Homo sapiens: one gene and its partners. The protein of the gene in region 2 interacts with the protein of the main gene of each other region in a pairwise test. Each region holds a gene or a part of one and is shown on either strand. Other genes may lie near its edges.

Evidence for each region.
Region 1: the proteins of REEP5 (region 2) and MEP1B interact in a protein complementation assay, tested with the Homo sapiens proteins (one study listed by IntAct).
Region 3: the proteins of REEP5 (region 2) and LETMD1 interact in binary tests that used the Homo sapiens proteins (3 or more experiments, as listed by UniProt).

The regions. Positions count from the first base shown.
Region 1 is NC_000018.10:32,191,919-32,201,335, forward strand, and holds part of MEP1B (meprin A subunit beta isoform 1 precursor), read left to right. Parts: intron 1-727; coding exon 728-772; intron 773-855; coding exon 856-899; intron 900-3,488; coding exon 3,489-3,567; intron 3,568-3,908; exon of another isoform or gene 3,909-5,049; intron 5,050-9,417. UniProt on the Homo sapiens protein: Membrane metallopeptidase that sheds many membrane-bound proteins. Exhibits a strong preference for acidic amino acids at the P1' position. Known substrates include: FGF19, VGFA, IL1B, IL18, procollagen I and III, E-cadherin, KLK7, gastrin, ADAM10, tenascin-C.
Region 2 is NC_000005.10:112,911,520-112,920,936, reverse strand, and holds part of REEP5 (receptor expression-enhancing protein 5), read left to right. Parts: intron 1-9,417. UniProt on the Homo sapiens protein: Plays an essential role in heart function and development by regulating the organization and function of the sarcoplasmic reticulum in cardiomyocytes.
Region 3 is NC_000012.12:51,055,910-51,060,924, forward strand, and holds the end of LETMD1 (LETM1 domain-containing protein 1), read left to right. Parts: coding exon 1-112; intron 113-234; coding exon 235-336; intron 337-440; coding exon 441-593; intron 594-2,096; coding exon of another isoform or gene 2,097-2,122; coding exon 2,123-2,219; intron 2,220-2,694; exon of another isoform or gene 2,695-2,829; intron 2,830-3,451; coding exon 3,452-3,522; coding exon of another isoform or gene 3,523-3,526; 3' UTR 3,527-4,515; downstream 4,516-5,015. UniProt on the Homo sapiens protein: Plays an essential role for mitochondrial structure and function, as well as thermogenesis of brown adipocytes.

The DNA of each region.
Region 1 (9,417 bases), on a different chromosome or scaffold from region 2:
TATGCATAATTGATGCATAATTGCATTGAACTTTGATCTAATACTGGATTCTTTTGATTTATGGAGGGACATTTTATTGTCCATGTTCCAGGCTTCATATGCCCAGCAAAGAAATAGATGGTATAGGAAAGGCCAAGCACAGTGACTGACACATAGACATCCCATAAATGCTTGCTATTATTGTTTTTGTTATTTTGTGTCAAATCAGATGGACCTAATAATAACAGTCTACTCAGTATTCACTTGCATACTCGGAGATTTGGCCATATTATATACACCTTTACAACTTAAAATAGTAATTCAAGTTTAACTTAAGAATTTTGCTTGAAAGTTCCAAGGTATACTACTAGCAAGTGATATACATGTATGAGTAGATTGGGCTAGTTTGACCAAATTTAATCATTTGTTTGCTATTTAATCTAGTCTTCTAGTCTTTCAAATTATGCTTAATAATATATGGAGCAACCAATTTCTTATTCCCGAAGTCATTTGACATTCAAGGAATGTCGATAGGACAGAATACATACATAAAAGCTCTTTAGAGCCCAACCTGGCTCATAGGAGATTCTTAATCAATCAATCAATCAATCAATGTATGTTGAGTCTGAATCTAGTAGTCACCTGAGGCCAAAAGAAACTTGCTTAGTTCTGATTATATAAATGATAAAGGTTTTCTCCTTTTATAAACATAATGTTCAATTTTTTGTTGTTGTTGTTTTAATCAAAGATGTAGATGGCGGAATGGACCAGGACATATTTGATATCAATGAAGGTTTGTGGATTTTTTTTACATAATCTCTTAAGTAGAGAGTTTGAATCCAATTTGCTAACATGAATTTTTATCTTTACTCTTAGGTTTGGGACTGGATCTTTTTGAGGGTGACATCAGACTTGATAGGGTGAGTTGAAACAGTATAAGGAAGAATCTTCCATTAACCACTGCAAGCCAAATTCAGAGTAACTGAGAAAGATTAGACAGCATGAACTTTGTTAAGCCTAACTATCTCTAAGGGTGCAGAATCATGGTGACACATTTATTCAATGAATATATTATACTCAAAGAAATGCATATAATTGTGTCTTCATCTTTCATTACTCATATTTCTGTGTGGTTCAAGCCACCATAACTCATTACATATGTCTTAGTCTTATTGATTTGATTGATTTTCATTATTGGAGCAATATGACATTTGATTTTAAAATAGGACCTCACAGATTCAATCTAGTGGAGGCAAAATTAAACTGAATTTGTAAACATCTTCAATGAATCAGGCTTTTTACCCCAATAAATAGATTTTGTGACTTCTACCCTGGCCTTAGCTAAAAATAATGTTGCCAAGTTAAGACCCTCCCAAACCTATTCATAAAGAGTGCTGATTCTCATCTAAGTCATCATGCCACACAGATAAACACAAGAACCTTGCAGGTAGATTAGGGGGACTAAAAAGTTCACTATCATGAAAGCACTGTTTTTTTCAGTGTTCTCTCACAGCATGGAAATAAGCACTATTTTTCAAAAGACAAGATATAGTTTATTGCCCACTAGATTGAAAAATATTAAGAAACTTACTACTTACTATCCCTTTTGGTGATGATAGAGAGAAACTAGGATGCTTGTTTAGGAATGTGTTTAGAACATGTTATTATACTGGAGAGTGTATAAATTTGAAAAAAAGAAAGAAGGCAATTTGAGAAGAGCTAGCATAGTTTAAAATATATACACCATGTGGCCTAGAAATTACCCAGTAGATCTTTTCCTGTAAAATTCTGCTCTTCCTTCCAACACAGTCCTAAGTCACTCCCTTACTTCCTATATCGTAAGCACCAACATCCCTCACAGTCCTCCCACCCCCAGGAAACAGAGCTGCAGTCTCCCAGGCTTAGTCCTGAGCCTACTCTTCTATCTGTGCTCTCTCTTGATCTCACCTTCGTCCAGGGATTCAAATGTCATCTCCATGCCAATGAATCCAAAGGCATATCTCTGGTCCTCTCCTTTCCCTGAGCTCCAGACTGGTCTATCCAAGCACTAATTTGCCAGCTCCACTTGAATGTCTACAAGACGTCTCAAACCTAAGGTGTCCTCTGATCAGGTGAACTCTGACCTTCCCCCCAAACTGTTCCTCCCCACTCTCCTGTCTTCATAAAGTCATCCTCACAACCTGACTCTACTCAACTGAACACATAAAAACCTTGAGCGCCACCTTTGCTTCTCCTCTCTCCTTCACTCCCCATCCAGCCCGTCAGCAAGTTCTATCATTTCTAGCTCTAACATACACTGCAAATCGTCCACTTTTCTCCATCACTCTAATTCAGGCCCCATCATCTCTTGCCTGGCTTTTTCCATTAGCCTCCTAATTTGTCTTTCTATTTCAGATATTGTTCCCCTATAATCTTTTCCACCCTGTTACTTGTCCTTATCTCTCACAGCAAAGTCATTTTTCAAACAGGCAGTGACTTCATTTCACCTCCTGGCTTGAAACTCTTCCATAGTTGCCTATGGGTTTAGAATCATCTCCCGATTTAGTCCCAGCTGTCTAAGCCTAGCATGCCTTAGCTCCTGCTTCTGTCCTCCCCTCTTCCCTCCCCTCTCCTCTCTTTTCCTCTCCTCTTATCTCATCCACGTTCTCTCTTAGACTCATCAGGCTACTGGTCTCAACACATATTCAAAACATCCCAGGCATATTCCCACCTCAGAACAAGAACAACTAATGTTCCCTCTGCCTGAAACCACCTTCCCAGGACCCCTTTCAATGCTGGCTCTGTCTTGCGATCCCTATTTCCCCTTAAATATCATCCCTTCATAGACGACTGTCCTGATCACTCCATCTCATGTACTCCGTCATCCCTGTGCCCTTGTTCACATCTCTCTTTCTAATTTCCTCCCTATTGCATTCATCCTGCTTAAACATTTTTTTTTTTACATACTCTTTCTGTCCTCCACTAGATATAAGCTCCATGAAGCCAGAGACCTTTATTACCAAGGAATCTCTATTCTCTAGGACAATATTCAATTTGTGGACTGAGTAAATACATTAGTAAAATATTACTCATTTTCTATTATACAGTTTAAAATCCTTTAAAAATTTTTGAAAACTTTGGCCCAGCTCATGTGTGACTTTTTCTGATATTGTGAGATCCAGATTATCAAGGTCTTGCTATCACTGTTTTCTTGCAAATTTTTAATCTTTAAGTGTAGGAAACTAACCTATAAATCTACCAATATTTGTAGTTCAGTTTTCCAACAGTTATTTTTTGCATTATTCCTTCTTCAACTGTATTAACAAAATGATAGAAATTAGTAATTTCTTCCTAGAAACTTTGTTATATTATGATAAAAGTAGGGCTACACACACACACACACACACACACACAATTTGTTTGTGCGAACTGGGAGAGCTTTAAACTTCATTTATTTCTAGATTAACTACAGGTTTCCTAAGTGTTTGCCTTATTTGTTTAACTAGCCCTTTTGCATTTATTTTTGACAGGCACAAATTAGAAATTCCATCATTGGAGAAAAGTATAGATGGCCTCATACCATTCCATATGTTCTAGAAGATAGCTTGGGTTAGTATGCACCTTGAAGTATCCATAACTAATGTCTATTTCTGACAAAATATGATTATAGTGTTTCAAAGGGTGGGCTTATATAGTCTTTAAGGTTTTGTTTGGTTTGCTCCTTTGTGTGGCTATGTACATTTACTTTGAAAAAAAAAATAAGCAAAACGAACAATGAAAGTAACCTAAATGACTCTGTCTGAAATATTTACAGTGTCTTGACCAACAAAGCAATGAGTTCAACCAACGTTTATGGAGAGCCTACTCTGTTATGCTAGGGACATAACGATTAGGGAGCCAGTCTTTTTTTGTGGGGGAGGGGCTCTGCATCATATATTCATTGAACCAGTGCAAAAACATCTTTTGGAGAGCAGACAGGCCAGGCCAGGGTCCCAGGAGGATGCTCTGCTGGGGGTGCAGTGAGGGTGAAACATGGAAGAAGAGGGCCTTGCTTCCTCTTCCCATGGCAGGTATGCTCCTTTCTCCTAGAGTCTGGATCCCTGGTGAGTGAGGCCACTGACTGACTGTCCATCTGCCTGTCCCTCTCTATCCCTGCAAGTTCGGGGAAGAAGGGTCATTGGCAGCCCGGGGCTGGGAACCCAGGTCCTCTGGTGCCCCCGCTGGCTCGGGCTCGGTGGCCTTGGGCTCCTTGGCCTCATCCCTGTTTCTGCTGGCCTTCTGGAGCTGGTGTCACTGCGCCACCTCGGCTTTCAGACTCTCCAAGTCTTTTTGGCTGAGAGGAATGAAGAGGATGCCATTGATGCCTTTGAACTGCTCCAAGACGCTGGCCATGCTGGGGGCTGTGAAGTTGAGGGGCGGGATGTTGTTGCTGGAGCCGTTGCGGTAGATCTCATGCATGGCGCGCCGCAGGGCCACGGCCAGCTGGGTCAGGCACTTGAGGTACTCAGAGCTCTCCTTGGTCTTCTCCTGGTCCTCGCCCAGCTGGGTCTTACAGAGGGTGTGCAGCCAGCCCTTCCTTCTGGTGCTGCAGGGCCGACCGGAAACTCAGCTTTGCTCTCATAGACCGAGGTGATGAGGTGGTGGCCAAGGGCCACCTTGAGAGCTTTGGGCCCTTGGTACTTGGTGCTGACGGCCAGCGCGTTGTCCAGGAAGCACAGCGACAGGTCGTACTCCATCACCCTGTGCAGCACCCGCCTGATGTTGTCCAGCACGCCACCTCGGGGTGTCTTCCCCAAGCACCAGCGCATGAGGTAGTGGGCGCCCTGCAGCAGGCTGAGGGCCAGGGACAGCTGCCTGCTGGTGAAGCAGTGCAGGGCCAGGTGCATGTTTTCCTGGATGGTGTTGGGGTGCTCGATGCCCATCACCCGCACGCTCATCAGCACTGCCTTCTGCTGGCTTCTCAGGGCCTCTGCGTACTTGCCCATGATGTAGTGGAGGCGGGCAAGGAGGCGCAGGCAGGCTCAGATCTCCACGTGCACTGCTCCCTACACTTGGTTAAACAGGTGCAGGGCCTGATTGATGGGCTCACAGGGAGCCAGTCTTTATTTTAAAGCAGTGGTTTACCCTATGATCAATTATACATATGAGAAAATACATAAAATAACCAACTAAATTTGAGGAACTGGCATTGTTTTATCAACATTTTATTTTGCCAGGTCAGGAACTTAAACAACAACCTAACATGATAAAAGAGCTTTCATCATCCTCTTTTCATACAGTAAATAATGTTATTAGTGTAGTATTAAAATGTTAAAAAGTCAGAAGAATCAAATCCAAAACTAAGAACAGCTTTTCTATAGAAGAAATTTAAATATGTTGGAAAACTCTAAACATGGTCTTCATTTTAATCTATGGACTAGTGGCAATGATGCCACTGACCAGCATTAGCTTAGAAATTGCTGTTTGGGAAAAGTTTGAGTAAAAACCCTGCTATAGTTTTTTAATTTTTAATTTTATTTTTCATTTTTGTTTTTTTTTTTTTGTTTTGAGACAGAGTCTTGCTCTGGAATGCAGTGGCACAATCTCAGGCTGGAGTGCAGTGGCATAATCTCGGCTCACTGCAGCTTCTACCTCCCAGGTTTTGGCGATTCTCCTGCCTCAGCTTCCCGAGTAGCTGAGATTATAGGCATGTGCTAGCACACCTGGCTAATTTTTGTATTTTTAGTAGAGATGGGCTTTCACCATGTCGTACAGGCTGGTCTCGAATTCCTGGCCTCAAGTGATCTGCCTGCCTTGGCTTCCCAAAGTGCTGGGATTACAGGTATGAGCCACTGCACCCAGCCTGTTATAGTTTTTTAAAATTTCAACTTTTATTTTAGATTCAGTGGGTACGTGTGCAGGTTTGTTACATGGGTGTGTTGCATGATGCTGAAGTTAGGGGTACAAATGAACCCATCACCCAGGAGTTGAGCATAGCACCCAATAGGTGGCTTCTTCAACCCTTTTCTCCCTCCCTTTCCCCTCTTGTAGTCCCCAGTGTCTTTTGTTCTCATCTTTACATCCATGTCTATGCAATATTTAGCTCCCACTTATGGGAAAACATATGGTATTTGGAAACCCTGCTATTTTTCTTAAAGATCATGCATTTCAGTGGAGACTCACATAAATCAAAAGTGAATTATGATAGAATGGAATAAACATTATGATTAGTGATGTGTTCAAAGAGCTATGGGAGCACATTGGAGGGGCAGTAAACTCAACCTGGATAGAAAAGCATATGCATTATAAGCAGAGGACGCTATATAGCAGGACTGCCATGAAGACTGTGTAAGTTGTACACCGTACAACTGACATGACCTCCTGGAGCTGGTGCTGCCATGCCACCTCAGCTTTCAGATTCTCCAAGACTTTTTGACTGAGAGAAATGAATGAAGAATGCCATTAATGATGTAGAGCTGCTTCAAGAGGCTGCTCTCAGGTGGCTGGGCCAGGAAACAAGTGGAGCTGATACCAGGTTTACGTTCTTTCTGTTCACCAGGAGGCATTTGTTTCTTTGTGTGAAAGTGCTGTTCACCCATCTGGCCAGCCAGCAACTGCAGCACCTGCTCAGAGGTAGTGCCTCTTCCTAATTGGCACACAGGCACCATGTGGGCTAGTGTGGCCTCTGATAGCAAGGGAAGGGTGCTTTAGCCAGATGCATCACGATCTGCTAAGTCCTGAAGAAGGGAGAAAATCCTGAGCTGGAATTTAGATTGAGAGTGGGGAGCTAGGAAGTTGAGCAGGTAGGCGGAACGCAAATGGGGAAGGACTTGGGTCTTCCCGGTGTTAAAGAACTTGTCGTGTATACTAATAACATGGGGCCACCAAAAGTATTATTGTGGAAGTGAGATTGTTAAAATTGCAGTTTAAAATAATCACTTGGGTTGAAGTATAGAAGATGTGTCATTAGTGGGGTAAAAAGAAGATAGGGAGACCAGTTAGAAAACTACTGAGGAAATTCAGAGAAAGAATTAAGAGATTCCTAACCAAGATAAATCTAAAAGCTATTTGGGATGCATTTGTTAGATTTAGTGATTGACTGTAAGAGGTCAAGAAGAAGGTGGGTGTAGAGAAAGAGATTCTAGTGCTCAGGATTCAGTCCTGGGTAGCTGAGGGCATGGTAACGTCTTCAACAAGAATGGAGAATTTAACCTTGAGGAGCATGAGACAGAGAAGCATGGTGGAAATTAGTTTTTGGCATGCAGAATTTGAAATGCATCAGAGTCACTGTGGTGGAGATACCAAATAAATTCTTGGTATATGACCTGGTCATTCAAGGTCGAGAAATGTTTGGGAGTTATTAGGATGTAAGAGATGGTTGAAGCCGTGAGTATGGATGAGCATTTCACACAGTGCCTTGCATAGAGCAGGTGCTCCATAGATAACTGGATTTTATTGATTTATCCTGGAAGGTTGTGTTGAATAAGTAAGAAGATGGTCGAGAATGAAACTCAGTGCCATTTTTTGGAACTGGTATAGAAGGAAGATCTAGTGGAAGTTATTGAGAAGGGGGAATTGGCCAGAAACATAGATAAAAAACTAACAGTAGGGTAGGGAAAGCCAGGGCAGGAGTAGTTAGCGGGGTTGGAAGCCATAAAGAGCACAGGGGGCATGAGGAGAGAAAGATGTTCATTGACTTTTGGAATTAGGAACCTGAAAGATTTTGAATATACATGTTTTTTTGGTTTAGTCTTTTGATTAAAAAATTTTTAAGTTCTTTTGTTTTAATTCTTCCTTTTTTTCCTTTCGTTCGTTCCTTCCTTCCTTCCTTCCTTCCTTCCTTCCTTCCTTCCTTCTTTCTTTTTTGAGACGAGTTCTCACTCTATCACCCAGGCTTCAACCTCTGCCTCCCAGGCTCAAATGATCCTCCCACCTCAGCCTTCCAAGTATCTGGGACCACAGATGCATGCCACCATGTCCAGCTAATTTTTTGTATTTTTGGTAGAGATGGGGTTTCACCAGGCAATCCACCCACCTCGGCCTCCCGAAGTGTTGGGATTACAGGCGTGAGCCACCACATCCAGTTATATTTCTTTTTTTAAAAAACTTATTCTCCTAAGTATGTTCCATGAAAGATTAGGGAGCTTTAATTTTATATATATCTTAGGCTATTTTTTTTTTGCCATGTATTTAACCATGAGCTTTATTTATTTTTTAAACAACATTATAAACAACATAATGAATGCCTTGAGGATAAGAGCTATTTTTCATCTTGCAAATTGGAGGATTACCATAGTCTCTGGCGTATTATATGTAATAACATTTTTGAAATAAATTGATAAGCATATGTATATATATAAATGAAAAATGTTAGGTAAAAATTCAGCCTAGATCCTACCATCCAAACTGTGCACATTTTTACATAGTTATAACTATGATGTCTTAAATCTTTTGTTCTAATTTTTTCACTTAATGTTATTGCATTTTTTCATATTGTATAGTCTTTATAATAGAATCAAACTTCAAATTTTTATAGAACAATTTTTTTCAATTATGTGATTTTGATTATTTCTTATTTAGAAAATACTTTTGTTTAATATTGTAGAATTCAACTTGTTTTCTATGTTCAAATTAAGAAAAGTATCCTTACGTTTCAGAAATGTATACCATCTTCAAATGACTCAGACTAAGAAAATTACTAAGCAAGGCCACTCTTACAGGTAGCAAAAATAAATACCTATGAAGGGTTGATTTCTGGAAGGCCCTATTACTCAGATTCTAGTAGGTCAAACTGTGAAATTCTACCAGTAGGGTTGTAGTCTTTGAGCTTGAACTTCAGATGTTACCTGGCTGGTAGATGCAACTTCCCTGAAAGGAGTAATACTCATAGCAGCCATTTATAGTTTCCAGGGCCTAAGTTATAATTCCTTGCCTTAGCACCAAGGCAGAAAAGGCAGTGGGGGAGGCTGAGGGTAAAGAGTTGGGGATGGAAATGAAGGGGAAGGTGCTAGAAACCTGAAGGGGCTACTAAGGGGAAACAATCCTGAACAGCTGCTTACTGAACTCCTAGGATTGCCAGCAACTTGCCTCATTTTCCAAAGCCTGGCATGGTTCCAAGTGGAGCTTTCTGCATCTATAACGCAAGGTTAACTAAGGCCCTCAGTAAATAAAGGCATATGGAAAACAAAGATCTTATCTTGGTAAAGGGCCTCAGTGTTTATAAAGCTTTCACGTGTTACTTTATTTATTAATTCAAGAAACTATCCTCATTAAGTTTTGATAAATGGCCTAAACTAGTATGCTCTTTTACATTCTGTTTAAAACAGTGATATGGTGGTCAGTATTATCATACCTTATTTGAAGGAAATATTACATTTGAAATAATGACCCAAATATGATACTTATAGGACAGAACATTTTGAACGTTAACAGCCATATGTAGATACACACACACACACACACACACACACACACACACGG
Region 2 (9,417 bases):
TGACCAGTGTCCCCTCTCTTTGGCACACTAACAGGAAAGCGCTACCACTCTGTCGTCCTCCCTTTACTGGTGGGAGGATCTCAGAAGGTACAGGGAGCTGAGCACTTCTGTCTAGTAATTATTTTAATGAGTATTTCACCATATATTTATGCACCTAGAGAGTAAAACCCTATCAATTAGGTCTTCCTTAATTCATAATTACGTTAATTGAGACAGTAGGGAGAATTTTCTCATTTTCTTTTATTTTGAAAAAGCCACATGTTACAGACAAACTTGGGAAATGCTTACCCTAGTGTAAAAACAAAAACCTTTAAAAATGCTCCATGATATAGCTCCTTGGTTATATAAGTGAGTCATTTATATAATTGAGCTACTTAAAAAATGAATTTTTACGATTAGGATCTGAATTTATTACCAAAGTTGTTTTTATTCTACAATGTGTTTATTTTTTTTAATTCTACGATTTTATTTTTCCATTCGTTCAAGTAGGAATTATTCCTCTCCAGAAATGAATTTTGTTTTGCTCTACAGTTCTTCCTAAGAAAGCCAGTGGTTTTTACCTTCATTCAGTTGGTCTCTGCTACTTTCTTCAACCATAGGGATAAAAATAAAGGAAGAAAAAATTTTCACCTAGGAGGCTAAGACACAGATAACACATTATTACAGCTTGTATCTGTCACTAGTTAGGCTAGAATTTAGTCTATGACTATAAGGGAAGAAACATGTTTTAGAAGTTAGTTCTGATTTGAGCAATTAAATTGCAGTTACCTAGTAGTTGTTACTGTGTTAGTCCGGTACAGACACTTAGTCATACTCCAGAAAGTCTAGCTACATATAGCCCTGAGGCCTACCCCGGGCTCTGCTTTATGGAGGAGACTCAAGGAAAAACGGGATTGTGTGCACAGAATAAAGCATACAGACCCCCGTGAGCAAATATTCAGGCGGTCGGTGTTACATTAGTCTAATCAAGTCTGTTCATTGCATAACCAATATGATTGTATAATTGTCCAAAAGAAAGAAAAAGTATTTGAAAATGGTGGTCTTTAGTAGCATCAAAATCCATGTTGCTTAAAGTGTGACCTGTGAACACTGTCTTAGTCTGCTTGGGCTGCTATAACAAAATACCTTAGACTGGATAATTTATAAACAATAGAAATTTATTGCTCACAGTTCTGGAGGCTGGGAAATCCAGGACCAAGGCACCAGCAGATTTGGTGTCCGGTGAGGGCTTGCTCCCTGCTTCAAAGATGGCATCTTCTCACTGCTTCCTCACATGGTAGAAGGGTCAACTGGCTCCCTCAAGCCTCTTTTATAAGGACACGAATCCCATGCATGAGGGCAGAGCTCTCATGCCTGTTTCTTTTCTTTTGAGACAGAGTCTCGCTCTATATTGCCCAGGCTGGAGTGCAGTGTCGTAATCTCAGTTCACTGCAACCGCCATCCCTGGCCGCCCCCACCCCCGCCAAATTCAAGCAATTCTCCTGCCTCAGCCTCCCTAGTAGCTGGGATTACAGGCGTGTGCCACCACGCCTGAGTAATTTTAGTATTTTTAGTAGAGATGCGGTTTTGCCATGTTAGCCAGGCTGATCTTGAACTCCTGACCTCAGGTGATCCACCTGTCTCAGCCTCCCAAAGTACTGGGATTACAGGCGTGAGCTACCACACCTGGCCAAGCCCTCATGTCTTAATTGCCTCCTAAAGGCACCACTATTTAATACTAATACATTGGGTATTAGGTCCCAACATATGGATGTTGGGGGAACACAACATTCAGACCATAGCAGTCACCTTCATTTTAACTATTCTCCATACCTCTTGTAACTCTTATGCTCCCTAGCCAGAGTTATTTTTTAAAATACAGGTTCATCTATTTAGCAAAAATCAAATGCCAGTCACATGTGTGGCACTGTGGTAGCACTTTAGATATGGCAAGAAATAAGGTAGTCATACTCTCTGTCCTTGTTGAATGAGCAGTCTACCCAGGCAAGAAATAGGCAAAGTAGTGACCGTGTGGTAAGCCCTCTAAAGTAAATAAACAGTTCTGGTAGAGAAGACCTGAGGAATGAGAAGGGGCCAGCCAAGAGCAGAGCCAGGGAGAGGGAGAAGAGTGTGTCAGGCCCTGAGGCAGCACACAGCTTAGCTCTGTGTGAGCAAAGAGTGGTGGGGGAGGCACCAGAGAGGTGCAGGTGCCAGCAGGTAGGGTCAGTGGTAGAAGTGTGCATTTCATTCCAGATGGTGGTAGGGAGTTTGCATTTTCTGATTGCCTTGGATGGGTTTTAAATAGGGGGTGACATGATACGATTTATATTTTAAGGTCACTTTGGCTGCTGTGACCTCTGTAAGGAGTTCGCGATCTTGCCAAACTATTGCCAGTAATTTACTTCCTTCCTTTCTCACCTTTCAGCCTTTCTCTTGCTGTTTCCTCTCCTTGGGCCATCACAAGAAGGGGAGTAGTGTCAGTATTGGGTCAAGAGACTGCAGGATGCAAAGATGAAATTGGGAAAAGCTCACTTGGCTTCCTAGCTTTTCTCCCTTTGGACTCCCTTTGGAAGTCTGTGAGTGAAGCTCAGGTGCACCTGGCTCCTGGTCAGGGTCTGCTGCACGTTGGAGCATGTAGATGGTTGAAGACTTGCCCAGTGCTCACTGGGGAGCAACCAGTACCTTATTGTATACCCCTCTTCCTACTGGTTGTTCTTTCCGTGTGCATAATTTCCCTTTGAGCTCTTTGAGAACAGGGTCTTTCATCTCTGACTTCTAGTTTCTAGAATTTTTGGCCATCTTATATAGGCAATTCGGAATCTAATTCCAGCCTTCCTTTCATCAAGAACTGTTGACATAATTACCTTAATCTCCTTACTTCCCTCTTTTACTGATAACAGGAGGCAGACTACTGGAAATGTTTATTATAAAGATAGACCTCCCCCCATTGCTAAGATATAATTTAGATACTTATAAATTGTACACTTTTAAAGTATGCAGTTCAGTGGCTAGTATGTTCAGAGTTGTGTAACCATCACCACTGTCTAATTCCAAAACATTTTTATCACCCCAAAGGGAAACCATCACCAATCACTCCCTATTCCTCCTACCCAGCCCCTGGAAACCACTAATCTGCATTCTGTTTCTATGAGTTTGCCTATTCTGAGCATTTCATGTAGACGGAATCATACAATATATGGCCTTTAATGTCTGGTGCAGCCCTGCTTCTAATGGGATTGCACAAATAAGAGTCCTCTGGAGGGTGTATGCTGTGCTGCACCCTCATATGTGAGTAAGTCCTCCTGGTGCAGTCCCTCCAGGGTGGGCGCTAGTGAGCCAGGGCCCTAGTCCTGTACTTGCTCCTTTGTACAAATGGAATTGTGAGGCAAACTCAGACTTTATCTTCTATTTAAGGAAAGGGGAAGGTTTGCTTTCTGTCCTACCCAGTAACTTTTTTGCTTAAAATTCTATAAAAATGTCTATTACTTTTCCTCTTTTTATTTCATATTTTCCTTAAGACTTGGGCTGCCACCTTCCTGGGACTATCAGAGTTGGGCCTTAAAGATCAAACAGGTAGTCCAGTTCCTTTAGTTTTAAAATGACAATTCAGGGACAGAGAAAGGTGGAGTGTGTTTCCCAAGGTCACACAGAGGCCAGGCTTGGTCTGGAACTACACAGGAATGTAAAGCACATTTAGGCATATTTTAGTGCCAATGTTAGAAAGATTAAATATGTTTAGGGGGCGGGGCATGATGGCCCACATCTGTAATCTCAGCACTTTGGGGTGCTGAGGCAGAGGGATTGCTTGAGGCCAGGAGTTCAAGACGAGAGTCCAGCACTATATATTTAATCTTTAACAACACTTTTGAAATCTCATACCCAGTTCAGTAATGTGTCATTTTAGTTTCTGTGTGTCCTCACAAGCCCATTTTAAACTTTTGCTGCTGGTGTAAAGAGTTATATTGCATTTAGCTCTTTGTATGACTCCTGAAATCTGTGTAGCATTTTATTTAACAGATATGTACATATCTCTGTCTAAGTGCTTTGCAAATATAGCTCATTTAATCCTCAGAACAACCCTATTATGTAAGTGCTATGATTATTCCCATTTTTACAGATGAGGAAACACAGAAAGAGAATTTGAATAACTTGATCAAGGTCTCACAACTAGCAGATGATGAAACTGGTATTTAAATCCAAAGAATCTGGCTCCAAATTTCATGCTTTTAATGATTACGTTATGCTACCTCCCTTGTGGCTCTTTGAATGTCCCACAAACACAACATCACCTTATGTAGAGATGAAAATTAAAAAATGTAGGCCTTTCAAAAAAACAGTTGACCCTGTCAATACATTACCTTTGTGCAGTGTATTTTTCCTCTCAAATAAGGTACTGTCATCCCAAATCATATATCTGCACACATAGGCATTGACTGTGTTTTGTAGACATTAGTTAGAATATGTTACTAACAACTTTTCTTATCTGTTATGTAGCTTTGACTTATGACAGCAGAGGCTTGCTCTGTTTTACTAGCACAAGGCCACCTGAAAATGGCACACTGAACTGGATTTCCTAAGGGGATGCAGCGTTGCCTTTAGTTCTGTTTCAAGAGACAAGTATCTCAAGGGAAGATGTTTGGGGATGACCCCTATCGAGGTCAGATCAGAAAGGGATGGCAAGAAGGTTAATTTGAAGAAAAAAAACAATGAAAATATCTACAAGAGTTGTAACACAGTTAACCACAAGTAAAAGCAACAGCATCCTCTTAGCTAAATGATGCTCAGCACACAAAGGGAGGACACATTCTGGGGAACACAAGTTAAAAAGAGTTGCAGTCTACTTGCTTAAGGTGTGCATTGACAGACTCCTAAAGAGGTTTATTACCCAGAGGAGACTTTGAGAAAGTCACCGTGGTGTGAATGACAGTTGTGAACAGACACTTTCTGTTTTGCAGCTAGTCACTGGAAGCAGAGCTGTTTCCTTAACAGTACTGGAGGATGTGTATTTGTAGTTCTCTTCTTGGACTCATTAGTAGGGGGTGTATTTGTTTTCTTGTGGGTTTTTTTTTTTTTTTTTAAATTGTAATTATGTTTTGTTCTTTTTTACTCATGAGAACTTCAGAGCAGATGTATTTTCTACTGAGCTGCCTATGTTCCCATTACACTAGCTTTTCTCTCTGGATCTATATGTGCTTTGTTAAAGTGTTGAAGAGCAGAGCAATGCATGCCTGCGCTTTGCCTTCTGGGGTAGTATGAAGCACAAGCCAATGTGGCCTTCTGGCCGATGTGCACTTGGATAAAAAATATAACAGGCATTCTGCAAACTGTGACTTAAGCAATTTACTTAAACATTTAAATCTTTAATTTACTTAATTTAAATCTGAAATCTTAAGCATTTAAACATTTAACCTTCCTCAACTTTTTTACTGTCCTTGTTTCACTTAACATTACTGCTAAGAGTGCTGGACTCTTTTAAGATGAAAGTGTTGTGGAGAAATGAAAAAGTAATAAAAATATCCTTATAACAACTTGTGACTATTTTGTAAAATAATGACAGCCAGCGTTTCAGTTAAGGTTCGCCCGCTTGCCTGTGTCATAAAGAAAATAAAGTTTTAAAAAGCAAATAAGATGAATGATTTAAATTATTTATTCATGATCAGAGTTTCTGGGCTCTAAAGCAGTTGTGGAGGAGGATCTCATTTCTAATACTCTATTCTGGAATGTTCCTTATGAGCTTTTTTTTTTCTCTTTATGAAGGCCCTGGAGATTTAGTCTATTTGTCCTTCTTTCTGTCGTAGCCTCCCTCATCTCCTTCTGACCTGGACTTCTCTTTTTCAGGACTGACTTTGAATGAGGACTCAGTTTTCAACTTAATTTTTTCACATGGCATTTAAAACAAGTATAAATACAAATATAACATGTTAAGGTATTTAGTGGTGATTCATAACATTAACAATTAATTTTGGGGAAGTATGAATTAATATGGCAGAAGTTTTAAAACAATTTCAAAATTGTGAATGAAATTACTTTTTGTAGCAGCTGAAATATAAGTGGGGGCTGTAGAAACGTACCCTGACTTCATTCTGTCACTTGCACACTTTCCTGATTCCAGGGAGTGGAGCTTATCAGTCACTCTGAGTCATGTGTCTACTATATATATCCTGCAGCCTCTGATAGACCAAGTGATCTAGTTAAGGGATCGCTCACTTGTCTAGACTGCGGTCCGCATCTAAGGTGGCCCTCCTTTACCTAGGAAAAGGCAGCTTAGGTTGTTCCCCTTCTAAGTTGTGAGGTTACTTGAGATTAAGTTAAACTTTATGATACCAATCTGACACAGATACTTATAGAACCACTGGTTTTATTGACAAAGGGTTGTCCCAGTGGGATTTGCATCTGCTCTTTTATTGCTCCTGGCATTAATCTTTTTTACCATCAATCATTCAAACAGTTTTTTTGGGGGGACAGGCAGGGAGGCTGAGATGGGTGGATTGCTTGAGTTTGAGACCAGCCTGGACAACATGGCAAAACCCCATCTCTACAAAAAATACAAAAAATTAGTACACGCCTGTAGTCCCAGCTACTCCAGAAGCTGAAGTGGGAGAATCACCTGAGCTTGAGAAAGTCAAGGCTGTGGTGAGCTGTGTTGATGCCACTGCACTCAGCCTGAGTGACAGAGTGAGACCCTGTCTCAAAAAAACACACACACACTTGGGAGGCTGAGGAAGGAGAATTGCTTGAACCCAGGAGGCACAGGTTGCAATGAGCCGAGATTGCGCCACTGCACTCCAGCCTGGTTTTTTTGAGTGTGTTTTTTTTGAGACAGGGTCTCACTCTGTCACCCAGGCTGAGTGCAATGGCATGAACACAGCTCACTGCAGCCTTGACTTTCTCAAGCTCAGGTGATTCTCCCACTTCAGCTTCTGGAGTAGCTGGGACTACAGGTGTGTACTAATTTTTTGTATTTTTTGTAGAGATGGGGTTTTGCCATGTTGCCCAGGCTGGTCTCAAACTCCTGGGTGCACACACACACACACACAAACACACACACATTCAGTTTTGAGTTATAAAATGTTAGCTAAAAGGGGTCTTAGAGACTAAGCTGCTAGGGTGATAGCCACCTGTAACAGATGTGGAAATCAAGGCCACAAACTGAAGTTAATTGACATAGGTCACAGGTGTGTTGGGACCAATTCAGTCTTAAGTGTAGGGATGTCTGTCCACATTCCGCATTGTTATATTTGACTGTGACTGACTCTTCCATTTTGCATTTAAAAACAAAATGGTGGATAGTGGTAAATGAGATCACTGTAATTAAACACCAAAAGATTTGACCACTGAATGACTGCATTTTTTTCTTTATACTTCATTATAGGTATTCTATAGACTCATCTTAATTTTTTTTTTTTTTTTTTTTTTTTTTTAGCCAGGGTCATACTCTGTCACCCAGGCTGCAGTGCAGTGGTGCAATCATGACTCACTGCAGCCTTGACCTCCCAGGCTCTAGCTATTCTCACTCCACTGCCTCTGTAATCTTTTTTCTTTTCTTTTCTTTTTTTCTTTCTTTCTCTTTCTTTCTCTTTCTTTCTTCTTTCTTTCCTTTCTTTCTTTCTTTTCTTTCTTTTCCTTTCTGTCTGTCTGTCTTTCTTTCTTTCTGTCTTTCTTTCTTGATGGAGTTTCCCTCTTGTTGCCCAGGCTGGAGTGCAGTGGCGCAATCAGCTCACTGCAGCCTCCACCTCCCGGGTTCAAGCGATTCTCCTGCCTCAGCCTCCCAAGTAGCTGGGATTACAGGCATCTGCCACCAATTTTTTGTGTTTTTAATAGAGATGGGGTTTCACCATGTTGGCCAGGCTGGTCTTGAACTCATGACCTTAGGTGATCCATCTGCCTTGGCCTCCCAAAGTGTTGGGATTACAGACATGAGCCACTGTGCCCGGTCAGTCTTTCATTAGTCTTTCTCGTACTGTTTGTTGGTTTTCTCTCTTGCTTTAAAAGCACATATACTCTGCAGTGAAAAAGATATGTAACTTTCTGATCACGCATAGTTTCCTGCCTTCTTTTTTTCTATGAAGGAGAAAAATATTTTCCTTATTGGCATGGAAACGAACTAGTGTTTATGTCTTAAAATGTCTGATTCTTTTTTCCTTCTTATTTGAGGTACTGATAATAGGAAAACCATTTTGAATTACTAAGAATTCCTACATCATACTCTCTGATAAATACAGCCAAAAGCAATCCCATGCATGGTGGGCATGGAGGATGGTCAAGTTATGTGTCTGCCATAACAAAAAGGATTATAAACATTATGGTCCATGTTCTTCATATTCAATTTCCAAAGAACCTATCTTAACCTCTGGAATATTTGCTATTAAACATAAGTTACCACATTAGAAATAAAATATAAAGCAGATGGACCAGAAGATGATTCCTTTCTGTTCTTTACCAATAGGACATCTTAAAGCTTTTTATCCATATATATGGATAAAATTAAAATATATATGGGTATAAATGGATATATAGATATATTTTAATGAACTGCTTTTTTTTCCACACTGTCAGTCTCTGGTAAATAGTTGATATTGGTACAACTGGTTTGAATAATAAAGCCAATGCTGTGAAGACATACTATTACTTAATTTTATGTCATTTGGCTAGTTTGAATTGTAGCAACTGAGTTACTTATGAACCATGCACAGAACACATAGTATGTACCTATGTGTCTTAGGTGTGAGTAGCCAAAAGCATGTGTATATGGAGCTGATTATTACCTCTTGAGCAAACAGCTTAACTTTTATAAAATTCAGTTTTCTCATATGTAAAAGGTGGGGATAGGGTTGGGGGGAGTTGGGATAATATATGTCAAACGTTTAGGACAAATCAGGCATTCTGTAAGTGCTCAATTAAGGGGAGTTAGTTTCATTAACATATAAAGAGGAAAATTGACTTAATCATAGTCATAGTTCTTTAACTTTGTGTCATTAAGCTTTTCATTGATTTAAGGAAAAACCTTCCTAAGAGTATTTTCTTTCATTTATTTTTTCACTTTCATTTTTTGTTCCTTGTCTTATTATTTTTTTCCTGTACTTAAATCAGCTTAAGACATCATTATTCAAAGAATAAAACACAGTAAAGTTTTGTTCTTCCAAGTTAAAAATATGTGATATGGCTAGTGGTTTTCTTCTGTACTGGTACAATGGTGTATATGTTCCTAAGCATTGAGTATAAGTTGGACTAACAATTTTTTAATATTAAATCTTATGCATAAGAAATGTGAACTTGGTCCTAAAAGCAAGAACTCAAAACAGAAATATAAAAAGGTTGTACAGTTCACATATAAAAAAGCATTTGATCTATTTTGCATGGTAAGAACAAAATAGATCTGAATTAAGAACTTGTAAAAGTGGATGTTTTTCCAGATGGATTTATTGTGTCTGAAATAAT
Region 3 (5,015 bases), on a different chromosome or scaffold from region 2:
TCATGCTTTCCGGAAGCAGTCCCACCCAGAAATTATTAGTTATTTAGAAAAGGTCATCCCTCTCATTTCTGATGCAGGACTCCGGTGGCGTCTGACAGATCTGTGCACCAAGGTATTCCTGCAGTTAACCCTTCCTACAAATGTGGAATCTTGTTAGATTCAGTGTGCACTAAACTAGGTAAGAGGAGTAGTCAGGACTTTCCTAACATCTACAAATCTCTTACCTCTTCCAAGATACAGCGTGGTACCCACCCAGCAATACATGATATCTTGGCTCTGAGAGAGTGTTTCTCTAACCATCCTCTGGGCATGAACCAACTCCAGGCTTTGCACGTGGTGAGCACTTTGAGGGCTTCTCTTTTCCATAGCATCACCATGTTTCAGGTGTTTGCTTGAGCTCATACTATTTGCCTTTCCCCTCCTATGTGGTTGTGTTACAGAAAGCCTTGAGCCGGGCCATGCTTCTCACATCTTACCTGCCTCCTCCCTTGTTGAGACATCGTTTGAAGACTCATACAACTGTGATTCACCAACTGGACAAGGCTTTGGCAAAGCTGGGGATTGGCCAGCTGACTGCTCAGGAAGTAAAATCGGTAAGAGCTTGATTGCAACATCAACCCTCAACCCTTGGTGTGCTTTTGAGCCTATGGCAGGCCGGAGGTTTACAGGGGCTCCTTGTCTTGTTTGTTTATAGAACCCAGCTTCTTTATTCTCTCACTTCATTTATTTATTTATGATTTATTTTTATTTATTTATTTATTTTGAGACAGAGTCTCATTCTGTTGCCCAGGCTAGAGTACAGTGGCACAGTCTTGGCTCACTGCAACCTCTGCCTCCCGGTTCAAGTGATCCTCCTACCTCAGCCTCCCAAGTAGCTGGATTACAGGTGTGCACCACCACGCCCAGCTAATTTTTTGTATTTTTAGTAGAGATGGTTTCACCATGTTTGCCAGGCTGATCTCAAACCCCTGGCCTCAAGAGATCCATCAACCCAAAGTGCCGAGACTACAGGTGTGAGCTACCGCACCCAGCATATTTATTTATTTTTCAGTCTCACTATTTTAACCAAGCTGGTCTTGAACTCCTGGCCTCAAGCAATCCTCCCATCTTGGCCTCCTAAAGTGCTGGGAATACAGCCGTGAACCACTGTGCCCGGCCTTTTTAAAAATTATTTTTTAATTAGCCAGGAGTGGTGGCACATGCCTGTAATCCCAGGTACTTGGGAGGCTGAGACATGAGAATTGCTTGAACCCAGGAGGTGGATTGCAGTGAGCCAAGATCGCACCACTGCACTCCAGCCTGGGTGATAGAGTGAGACTCTGTCTCAAAAAAAACCCAAAAAATAAAATAAAATTATTTTTTATTTTTGTAGAGACAGGGTCTCACTATGTTGCCCAGGCTGGTCTTGAACTCCTGGGCTCAAGTGATCCTCCCGCCTTGGCCTTTCAAAGTGTTGGGATTACAGGCATGAGCCACTGCGCCCAGCTCCTCACCTCATTTCTGTGTCTTTTTTCTCAAGAAACTTAGCTAGGGGGAAGGAATTGCCCACAGAAATTTTGGTTTGTATTTCTTTTCTTCTGGCACTTCAGAAAGCAAGGATACTGCAGTTTAGACCTACTATTTTAGCTTATATAGGACTCTTTGCTTTTGTCATCTTGTCCATCACTAGTTTTCAAATTGCCATGAGGAAAGGCTTCATGTGGGAATGAGATTGTAACTTTTTTTTTTTTTTTTGAGACAGAGTCTCGCTCTGTTGCCCAGGCTGGAGTGCAGTGGCATGATCTTGGCTCACTGCAACCTCCGCCTCCCAGGTTCCAGTGATTCTCCTGCCTCAGCCTCCCGAGTAGCTGGGACTGCAGGTGCATGCCACCACGCCTGGCTAATTTTTGTATTTTTTAGTAGAGATGGTGTTTCACCATATTGGCCAGGCTGGTCTCCAACTCCTGACCTCGTGATCCGCCTACCTCGGCCTCCCAAAGTGCTGGGATTACAGGCACGAGCCACCGTGCCCGGTGAGATTGTAACTTATTTAAAGGAGATTTAGGATTGTTTGTGGATTTCCATTTCCTTGGCATAATCATTCTATGATTATTAAGGACCATTTCTGTTCTGAGTGGTATAGGCTTGTTATCTCCGTGGCCTGAATTCTACGCATATTGGTGAAGATAGGTGTCGAACTTGGCTGGGAGAATGGCTGCAGATTTCCTGCAGCCTGAAAGGTAAAACACATTTCTGTGGTTATACCACTAAAATCCAAGTCACTTTTGTATTTTATTCTGAGGTCATTTTGGAGTTAATTATTGAGTACTGTGAGACATATATATACATACATCTAATTGAAAGGGCACAAACTCACATGCCTACTGCATGCCCGGCAGGTAACGAAGTAGGCCATAAGACAAGAGGGAGTAGTGGGGACTGTGGAAACCTAAGAGTGAATGCATGCTAGTGTGAATTTTCCAACCTTGGCACTTCCTTATGGGGGGAATATCCTGTGCTTTATTTATTTATTTATTTATTTATTTTGAGACGGGGTTTCGCTCTTGTTGCCCAGGCTGGAGTGCAATGGTGCGATCTCGGCTCACCGTAACCTCTGCCTCCTGGGTTCAAGTGATTCTCCTGTCTCAGCCTCCCAAGTAGCTGGGATTACAGGCATGCACCACCACGCCCAGCTAATTTCGTATTTTTTTTTAGTAGAGACCAGGTTTCTCCATGTTGGTCAGGCTGATCTCGAACTCCCGACCTCAGGTGATCCGCTGGCCTCGGCCTCCCAAAGTTTTGGGATCACTGGCGTGAGCCACCATGTCCAGCCTATCCTGTTCTTTATAGGTATTTATTATAGCAGTATCCCTAGCCTCTACCCACTAGATGCCAGTAGCACCCCTTCACCCACAGTTGTCTCAACCAAAAATGTCTCTAGACATTGCCAAATGTCCTAGGGGTGGGGAGGAGAGAGGCAGGATTGTCCCCGTTGAGAAGTACTGGTCTAAAGGCATTCAAACTCAGAAAAAAAACAGTCTGCTGACCAAACACAAAGCATCTGAGGGTATGTATTAGGCTTGTTTGCCCCCTGTTTAGGCTAGGTCTTGATGTTTTGTGGGCCTTTGGATGTTAGGGTAGGCCTACTAATCTTGAAGCTGAGAAATGTCCCTAGAGCACCAACTTCTACCAGAAGAATCCCAACGCGACTGGTGTTTAGTACCATTACCATCTCTGAATTTTCTACTGCAATCACATGAGAAATAGAGGATGAGTTGATACGAATATATAGTAGAAGGAAAGGAAGGCATGCATACAGGGGCTGAAACAAAGAAGGGGAACTTTGAGAAAAACAGCTTCTTCATTCCACCCCTCCCTGCACTTGGCTTCCTGCCTCCAGGCTTAAGCCATATATAACAAGGCAGTTATAAGGCAGTGTTCCCAAGCCAAACCACTAACACTGTGTTTTCAGAAGCTGAGCTGTCTCTCTTGCTGCACAACGTGGTCCTGCTCTCCACCAACTACCTTGGGACAAGGCGCTGAATGAACCATGGAGCGGATGGCATTGTCCTGCAGTCGTATAGTATAGCAGTGCAGGAACAAACAGCACTTGCCAGCAAAGTCTGTGTGTACTGTTAAGTGTGTGGGAGGCAGAGAGAGGAGCAGGGGCCATGGGCTTCACAGCATGGCACACATGTGGGAACTGCAGACATTCCTCTCACAGCTAGAACTGAAACAAACCCTCTTGCTAGGGGTGGTCCGTGTGAGGTGTCATCCTGTCCCCCTCATAATTACTAATAGCTGGAACTGGCAGCAGCCTCTACTGGGCTTTTACTGTGATGTGTTCAGTTCATGTCCTAGGAAGTCAGCTTTTGCCCCAGGTGGGAATCCTTATTTGGCTTAGGACTGATCCACTTCCATGTTACTTACATCTGTGGGTTTTTGTTGTTGCTGTTAGAAAATTTGTGGCTGGTGAAAACAGCACTCCTTTGGCTGGAGCACATGTGTCCGTGCATGTACTTGGGTGTTTCCCTCCATCCTTTCTGATATGACCAAAAATCAAGTTGTTTTGTTTTTTGTCACCTTCACTGGCATGGGCTAACCACTTCTTTTTCAAACCCTCTGAACACCTTTTTCTGATGGGTAACTTGCAGGAATATTCTATTGGAAAAGATAACAGGAAGTACAAGTGCTTCTTGACCCCTTCCTCAATGTTTCTAGCCTTCACTCTCCATTGTCTTTTCTGGGCTGTATTACAGCCCTCTGTGGATCTTCAACTCTGCTGCCTCCACTGTGATGCAGCAGTCCAACTGTAACTGACAGTGGCTGCCTTCTCTGGGCCATGGATCACACCTGTAAGGTACTAATTACTGCCCAGCCTGGGGAGATCAGGAGAGGTCTGCATAGTTAGTAAGTTGGGTTTAGCTTTTGTGTGTGCATCAGTGACTTAGAGTTCTGTAATAACTTATTGTAAATGCATGAAGCACTGTTTTTAAACCCAAGTAAAGACTGCTTGAAACCTGTTGATGGAAATGACTTATGCATACTCTAATCATTTTGCTGTCTCCTTTTACAAGACTGACATAATCTAACAAATGGGGATTTAATTGGTTGGCATAGAACCTTCTGATGGGATGGAAGTTTTGCAGAAACTGATTTGAAGTTGATCTCCTTGCTGGACACTTTAAGGTGATAACAAGGAAAAGAGAATTTCATAAAGTTAATGGAATGAGGCCGGGCGCGGCGGCTCACGCCTGTAATCCCAGCACTTTGGGAGGCTGAGGCGAGCGGATCACAAGGTCAGGAGATCAAGACCATCCTGGCTAACACGGTGAAACCCCGTCTCAACTAAAATAGCAAAAAATTAGCCAGGCGTGGTGGTGGGCGCCTGTAGTCCCAGCTACTCAGGAGGCTGAGGCAGGAGAATGGCGTGAACCCGGGAGGCGGAGCTTGCAGTGAGCCGAGATTACGACACTGCACTCCAGTCTGGGCGACAGAATGAGATTCTGTCTCAAAAAAAAAAAAAAAAAAAAAGT